Regions from separate parts of the Homo sapiens genome. Here regions 2 and 3 are each linked to region 1. The links come from fine-mapping of genetic effects on gene expression. A gene starts in region 1. Each other region holds a variant in brackets. All regions are shown on one strand. Distances are from middle to middle.

Region 1 (2,679 bases):
GGTCCCCCAGCTCAGAAGAAGTGGTGTCAGAATGCAAACCTAGCCTTTGACTATAAGATTTGTGTTCTCTTTTTCTGTTGTTGTTTGAGTTGGAGTTTCACTCTTGTCACCCAGGCTGGAGCACAATGGTGAGATCTTGGCTCACTGCAACCTCTGCCTCCTGGGTTCAAGCGATTCTCCTGCCTCAGCTTCCCGAGTAGCTGAGATTACCCGCCACCATGCCCAGCTAATTTATTTATTTTTAGTAGAGATGGGGTTTCACCATGTTGGCCAGGCTGGGCTCGAACTCCTGTCCTCAGGTGATCCACCCGCCTCAGCCTCCCAAAGTGCTGGGATTACAGGCGTAAGCCACTGCACCCGGTCATGAGTTGTGTTCTTAATCACTAAGCCACAGTGCTTAAATGACGCAATAGGCTAAATTGTTACTAGCATTATTAGAGATAGCATAGTGTAGCTGAGTGCCTAGGAGTTGGTTCCTAAAGCAACCTCAAGTTTCTAAAGTTTGAATTCCATCTCCAATACTTACTAGTCTAAGGCTAGTTACTTAACTCCCTAAATCTCAGCTTCTTTATTGGGAAAAAATGAGAATTCGGTTCAGACTAGGGTTGTTGTTAGGATTAGATGAGACAATACATGTAATACACATGATATATACGAGCACGTATTTGGCATATAGTAGGTACTCAATAACTATTCATACAGCTACTGGAAACAATCTTAATTCTAGTCAAGTTATCAGACCCTTAATATTTTTTAAGCTGACTCCGTACTACATCTTTAAAATTTATGCTGCTAAAGGTAACTCAAAAAAGTTATGACCTTCGATTTTTAATTGCAAATTTGTCAAAATCACCTGAATTTCAGGCCAAATCTAAATGGCAAGCTGGACAAACGGCTCCTTCCAGTCCTGCTTATCAAAAGAAATACGATCACTGGACCATCCGATACAAAGCTGTGCTGCAAGAATTACAGTGTAGAAACATCTTTCGGTTGCCTTCCTAATTTATAAGTCATATTATAAATTACTTACATGCCTTTCAAATTCATAAGCCGTATCTCTTTTACCGCCCAACTGTGGACAGCCCCAGACAGACCCAGCTCACCGAGTGCTGGCCAGGCGCCCCTTGCTTGAACGTGGTGGACAGTGAGATGGGGGGCACTACAGCCCTGGAGGTCCATTGCTCTGGATCCTGGCCCACATGGATCGCCTGCGTGGCGAAATGTTGGAAGTGTGGCAGGAAACCTTGTGAGGAGGCGTCTTTTTCCTGCATGCTGAACCGCGAAAGAAGAAGAGAGGAAAAGAACACCGAAGATATAACCAGTCGAAGCCGGGTGTCCGGGGTTGGGAGAGACAGAAGGATCAGGCGAGAAGGAGCTAAAGCACGCAGGTAGAGCCGACGGCGAGCGCACTAAAGCGGCACACAGCGATTGTTGGGGTGGATTTTATTAGCGGGTCTGCAGTCTCACGATCACAGTGGGGCGGGACCAGCGCGGCCCATTGAGCGCAGGCCCGACGCGTCTCCCGCTCCTTATTGGCTGACAGCAGAGGCGTTGCCTGAAACGTCACCGCGACCGCCCCACCCAGTGCACAAAGCGGAGTGAAGCTGGAGTCCCTGGGTCCAAGTGGTGTTAGTCCCTGCGGGCGAAATTCCTGAGTACCCGTCCTGAGGAGGCTGCCATGCTGGCTCCTGAGAGCCACCCGGGCGTCTCTGTGACCTCAGGCCGGAGGTTCGCCCGAGACGTGGCGGAAAGCTGGCTTAGTGTTGAAACCGGGTAACTGTAAACAGACCACATAAATAGCCTTCTTTTACTGTGGTAGTTACCTCTGACCACCATCCTTTGCCCTGAGGGCGGTGCTAAAAGACGTAAGCCACAACGTGGAGGGTGGTTAAGAAAACAGTTGCCCAAGCCGCCCAGTTTGCAGCTTGGATTCTCATCAGTCACAGCTTGCGTTTTAGGTACACTGAACTCTGTAATGACCCAGTGCTTACGATGACGAAACGATGACTAGAAGTGAAGGTTAAATTGTTCGTAAGACATAACGAAGCTACTGTAGTGAGGACGTCTATGCACAACTCTGGCAGCTTCCTAAAAGTTAGTCAATCTTGAGCTTTTTCAAGCATCATTATCTTCTTTTAAAGTACAGAGAGAAACTCCCCCTAATGAGAAAGATAATGTGGCTTTGAAATACTTACTGGAGCCTAACATCCTTACACAAAATGCTTTTGCTTTTACACAACAGCAACATCCCTGCAGGAAAAAGGATTGTTTACCACTCACCTGCGCCCAGAGCCCTACTCTCAGAAGAATCACTGCTTTAAAACAAAAATCTCCCTGTTCCCTAAGCAATACAGACTTGACCTACTTACTATTGTGGCTGTTTTCTAGCACCAGGAAATTTGGGGATATTTCTGTTGTTGCAAAATATTCGCTAAAGATCTAAAACTTTATTAAACAAATTAAGAACAAGGAGAATAAGGAATAAACAGCTCTTAAAATTTACAGTTTGAAAGAAAGATATGAAGAGAAAGAATGAGGCAATTTGCTTTTCAAATTAGCTTTAGGGACATTTAACCCATTAAGCACTAGAGGAGTGGTGCTTGAGGGCCTACAAGCTTTTAGAATCCTACCAAACTTTGTATGGCTGGGGGAAAAAATGGATAGACTTCAAAACACTAA
Region 2 (2,816 bases), 750 kb before region 1:
GTAGCTTAATCTCTTTGTGCCTAAATTTCCTCATTTGTAAAATGGGAATAATAACACCTACTCTATAGGGCTGTTCTGAAAACTAAATAATTTAATAAATGGAAATTGCTTATAGCAGGGCTAGGCAAAGAGCAAATGCTATGTGTGTTAGTAAAAAGAAAAAAAAGTGATGCAGAGACATTGCTTTCAATAAATTAGTTAATGCCCGAACACAGTTCATTGGATTTGACTATTAGCAGGTCATTGTTATGGGTGAAAGGTACTGTATATAAAAGCACACGCATAAAATATTTATCATTTAAAATTTTTTTCCTTTTTGCTTATTATTTAGAATTTGTGAAGATGAGAGAGAAAACGATGGTAATGTATTTATAAAGAAAAAATAAAAGGGCTAACCCATGTTTCAAAATATACCAAAAACTAGATTAAGGGTGAATTTAATACGGTAAACTAAAGTACAGAATTATCACCCACACAAATGTAAAAGACACATGGCGTTTTTGTTATTAACAATATTAGGTGTCTGAAATCTCACTGGAGTTATTTTAGAAACACAGATGGTCAGACAGATATATGCTGTATGTGAATATGTGAAAAGTAAGTGATGCAAATTATAGCTGGGATAGTCACCTTAAATTTATACATCTTTCTTTCTGATTATGCCATTTAATGGAAAAATTGATACATCTCTACAGAATACAAATATTTATCTATAGCACTAATATGTATAAGTATCTTATTATATATTTTATGGCCAGAAATTATTGTTATTCTTCATACTTAACACTTATTGAATGTTTATTGTGTGCCAGCAACTACTAAGTATGTTATATGTATTCATCCATTTAAACTTCACACCAATCCAATGAGGTAGTTATTACTGACAATTCCATTTCCATTTCACATGCAAGGAAACTGAGATACAGAGAAGTCAAGCAATTTGCCTTTGGTTGCAAATCTAGTAAGTAGCATGGCAAAGAATGAATGCAGGTAGGCTGGCTCCAGAGCCATGCATTTAGTTGTGCTACACTGCCTCTAGAATAAGGAGGAAATAAAAATACATAAGATAAAAAGTAAGAGTCCATGTTACCTTTCAGAGATCTGTCATATTTTGTTATGTAGTAAATTGTGTTCCCTGCAAATTCATATGTTGAAGCTCTATCCCCCGCTACCTCAGAATGAGGCAGTTTTTGGAGACAGGACTTTTAAAGAGGTAATTAAGTTTAAATGATATCACATGGGTGAGCCCTAATGCAATCTGACTGGGGTCCTTATAAGAACAGAAAATTTGGACGCACAGAGAGACACCAGGGATGCACATACAGAGAAAAGACCATGTGAGGACACAGCAAAAAAAAAATCAGCCAAGGGCTGCAAGCCAAGGAGAGAGGCCTTGGTGGGCACCAAACCTGCTGACAACCTGATCTTGGATTTCTAGCCTCCAGAGCTGTGAGAAATAAATTTCTATGAAAACAAATTTCTAATAAATAGTTTATAATTCTTTGTTATAGCAGCCCAAACTGACTAAGAATCATGTGAGCCTATTCCTCATAATACATTTCCATTTGTGTGTGTGTGTGTGTGTGTGTGTGTGTGTGTGTGT[A/GTA]TGTCTGTATCTGTACCAATTTGTTTTCACACTACTATAAAGAAATACTTGAGACTGAGTAATTTATAAAGGAAAGAAGTTTAATTGACTCACAGTTCCACATGGCTGAGGAGGCCTCAGGAAACTTACAATCATGGCAGAAGGTGAAGAGGAAGCAAGGCACGTCTAACATGGCAGCAGGAGAGAGAGAGAAAGAGTGAGGAATTGCCACTTAAAACCATCAGCTCTCAGGAAAACTCCCTCACTGTCATGAGAACACCACAGGGAAAATCTGCCCCCATGATCCAATCACCTCCCACCAGGTCCCTCCCCTGACATGTGGGGATTACAACTGGAGATGAGATTTGGGCGCGGACACAGAGCCAATCAAATCAGTATGTTTGTTTTCTTTCTAATTCTCTTTTCACATAACATGTATTTATTTTATATCACATAATTTAAAATTGTTGATTTTATATTACAGTATTTACATTACAGGATATTAAAAGGAATATAAAACATCACTCAAGAAATTTACCTGCAGCCAGGCACGGTTGCTCATGCCTGTAATCCCAGCACTTTGGGAGGCTGAGGTGGCAAATCATTTGAGGTCAGGAGTTCGAGACCAGCCTGGTCAACATGGTGAAACCCCATCTCTACTAAAAATACAAAAATTAGCCAGGTGTGGTTGTGGGCGCCTGTAATCCCAGCTACTCAAGAGGCTGAGGCAGGAAAATTGCTTGAACCTGGGAGGTGGAGGTTGCAGTGAGCCATGATCATACCATTGCACTCCAGCCTGGGTGACAAGAGCAAAACTCAGTCTCACAAAAAAAAGAAAAGAAAAGAAAAGACATTTACCTCCTCTTCTGGGGAAAGGGTTAGTGTGTTTTTAGTTGTACACAGGATAGTTGTATTATGTTAGGTGGAATTATGACCTTATTATTGTCTTCATTTGGAGATTGAATATGGTTTAAGAAGATGTGTGTGGGTGCTCAGTTGACAAGGAGGAGACTTGTGGTTAATTTTAGGTGTCAACTTGAGTGGGCCACAAGGTCCCCAGAGTAAACACGTTTCTGAGTGTGTCTATGAGGGTGTTTCTGGATAAGATTAGCAGTTGAATCAGGGGATTCAGTAAAGTGATTGCCCTCCCCAACGCGAATGGCACCATCTAATCCACTGAAGTCCTGAATAGAACAAAAGGCAAAGGAAGGAGAGATTTATTCCTTTTTTTCCT
Region 3 (2,816 bases), 440 kb before region 1:
AGTTCTACCTCTAGTTCTACCTCTAGCTCTAGCTATACTTATATCTCCACCTCATCTCTATCTCTAGCTCTAGTTCTAGCTCTACCTCTACATCTAGCTCTAGCTCTATCTCTACCTATTTCTATCTCTATCTCGATCTCTATATCTATCTCGATCTCTATCTCTATTTCCATAACGCTTTCTCTCCCTACAGTTCAGATTTTGTTCTTGGAAACAGCCTGGGAAACAGGCAGTTTACTATACTTTCTATTTTCCCAAATCTCCATCTCTAACCACACCTCACCCCTGCTACCACCACACAGATTTCTTCGTGGAACATCCCTTGTTTGTGAAGCATTGACACTTATGCAAAAAGGTATTAAAAGTAAGTGTCTGGCAGGGCACGGTGGCTCACGCCTGTAATTCCAAGCACTTTGGGATATGGATCACAAGGTCAGGAGATCAAGACCATGCTGGCTAACACGGTGAAACCCTCTCTCTACTAAAAATACAAAAAATTAGCCAGGCGCGGTGGTAAGCACCTATAGTCCCAGCTGCTCGGGAGGCTGAGGCAGGAGAATCGCTTGAACCCAGGAGGCAGAGGTTGCAGTGAGCCGTGATCGCACAACTGCACTCCAGCCTGGATGACAGAGCAAGAGTCCAACTCAAAAAAAAAAAAATAGTAAAGGTTTCCTGCCTTTATGGACAACCTGTTTGTCAAATATGATCACATTCCATAAATTAGTTTTAAGTTCAACTGGGGTTTCCCTCCTTTCAGCATGCATATTATCTCTTCCCTTCCTCTGGACCTTTCCTATCCATGTCTTTACTAGGATTATTACATGTCTGGTGAGTGCTGTAAACAAAATGTTATGTGTGCAATTAATGCTAATTTGGATGATAGGAAACAGAAATATTAATTCTAATTACTTTTCAAACATAGCTCATGCAATAATAAGAGAATCTGATGTCACTGCAAGACGATTTGGTTGAGATGATAATGCTAATTTATTGAAATGGGTGGGTGTCATAATCAGTTTGAAAAAAAGAGAAACATTTCTAAGACATACCAGATCATATTAATACATCACCGCCACACACAAAATTGGTGTTAACATACAAATTCCTCTGGACGTTTAAGAAGCAATGCCTCCTTAAATATTGAGATCTAGTGAATGCACCTTTTCAAATTGTAATATATAGGTCAGAGGGTTTTTTGTTTGTTTTGTTTTCCTATCTTTCTATTTGGCTTTTCTCTTTACATAGACTAGAGAAATAAAGGCACATGCAAATGCATAGATTTATTTATTTAGATTTCAATTGAAATTTTTCATTATGTTTATTATTTGTAAACACAGGCATCTGCTTGGCTTCATGTGCAAAGCCCTGAATTCATTCTCTTCTTACTGAAGTTCTTGAAATGAAAGTAATACTTTAATATTTGATAATAATAGCCCAAGAAGGATGGTAACATCCAATTGTAAGTATTACATGTC[G/A]AAGAATAAATTTTTTACAGGAAAATGCATTATATTAAGAATCATAGAAGTTTTTACTCATAATAACAAATATGGAAGAAAAAATAGCTTGCGATAAACATACCCAGTCCATATTTGTATCCAACATATATTTTTTCTCTAAAGCAGAATTACAATATAAAAACAAAATTTAGATTCCAAATGGTATGTCATATTAGAGAGAAAAATAGTGCAAATGAACAGTTTAAAACTGTCCAAAAATATGAGTAATTTTATTTGAAAAATGACAAGCATTCTTCAGAGTTCTGGGCCACCCAATTATTTCAATAAGACAAATTGTCTTGGAGAATGGCTCATAAACTCTGAGCCATTCATTAGTTTATTTTTGTATCATCAGGGAGTTAGCTTGGGAAACTGGCAAAATCCTATCTGGCTTGAAAAGTAAATGCCCTTGGATTAGGGTTCTGTGCAACAAAAATTGCAAAAGGCTAATAATTTTACTTAAAAATTTTATGATTATTAATTTTCATTCTGTCAGCCTACATCACAATTAAAAGAAATAAATCATTTTGGCGGTTTGTGCCTGATTTTTCCCAAGTTTCTTTGTTTGTTTGCTTGTTTTAATATTAAGTATATTTCTATTAGCTGGCAACAGCTGTTATTTGGGTGCCTCAGCTGACTGCTCCCAGAATACCCACAGCTTCAGTGTGTACACTTTACTACAAATTCTTGATGTCTGGATTACTAAATAATTAAAACCATTCTTGCACATGTCCAATATAAGAGGGAGTAGATAAACTTCTTGCTTCATACCTTTTTCCAAAAGCTTTTATTTTCAAGTAAAATTGATTCTTATTTGCTTTTAATTTACCAGCCACAACCCTAATATCATTTAACTAGCTAGTTAATAAAGCCTTATAATTAAAGCTTCGTATTAAATCTTTGTATACACAATGATTTATTTGGGACTTAAATTTTGAATTCTTTCCTCCTTAAATTAATAAAATTTTGAGTTTCTGTTTTAATCTTCAAATATTTCAATTATTTGTTTTTTAAACAAACAAGCCTGAACTAAAGGAATGATTGAAATTCATAAATGCCATTTTTTCTCTTACATGATCATACTATTAAAACTATAAAGTTTACACATCAAAATAAGAAGATAACTAAAGACAAAATAAAAAATTGTGAAAGCACCAAGAAATAAATGACACCTTACCTATCAGGGGAAAAATCTTATGGACTCTCCATAAGAAAGAGTAGTAACTCCTCCAAGATCCCTGAAGGATAATAATCTGTGACACTACAGTAGATACTCAGACATAAAGTAGTTCCAAGAACAAAGACTATTGTCTGTCAAGA

Which allele goes with the higher level. Alleles are on the strand shown, and positions count from the first base shown. SD is a standard deviation of normalised expression in the study named.
With allele A in place of GTA in region 2, the expression in monocytes after R848 of the gene that starts at base 1,419 in region 1 is higher (moderate effect, 0.67 SD a copy in Quach 2016).
With allele G in place of A in region 3, the expression in prefrontal cortex of the gene that starts at base 1,419 in region 1 is higher (large effect, 1.0 SD a copy in GTEx).

The links. PIP is the estimated chance that this variant, and not a neighbour inherited with it, causes the effect.
Region 2: its variant is fine-mapped to the expression of CTH in monocytes after R848 (Quach 2016, PIP 0.95).
Region 3: its variant is fine-mapped to the expression of CTH in prefrontal cortex (GTEx, PIP above 0.99).

Annotation. Positions count from the first base shown.
Region 1 is chr1:70,410,008-70,412,686 of GRCh38, reverse strand. It overlaps CTH (cystathionine gamma-lyase), which reads right to left and starts at 1,419. Exons shown (of 12, transcript NM_001902.6): 1 at 1,104-1,419. The coding sequence starts at 1,271. RefSeq lists a silencer at 1,379-1,528 and an enhancer at 1,589-1,848.
Region 2 is chr1:71,161,235-71,164,050 of GRCh38, reverse strand. The region is part of intron 2 of ZRANB2-DT (ZRANB2 divergent transcript); the gene reads right to left. Among named protein-coding and RNA genes, the nearest start is that of ZRANB2-DT, 81 kb to the right of the region's middle. The variant A/GTA (reference allele first, on the strand shown) is at 1,604.
Region 3 is chr1:70,848,482-70,851,297 of GRCh38, reverse strand. All of the region lies in intron 3 of LOC102724572 (a long non-coding RNA gene), which reads right to left. Among named protein-coding and RNA genes, the nearest start is that of LINC01788, 140 kb to the right of the region's middle. The variant G/A (reference allele first, on the strand shown) is at 1,476.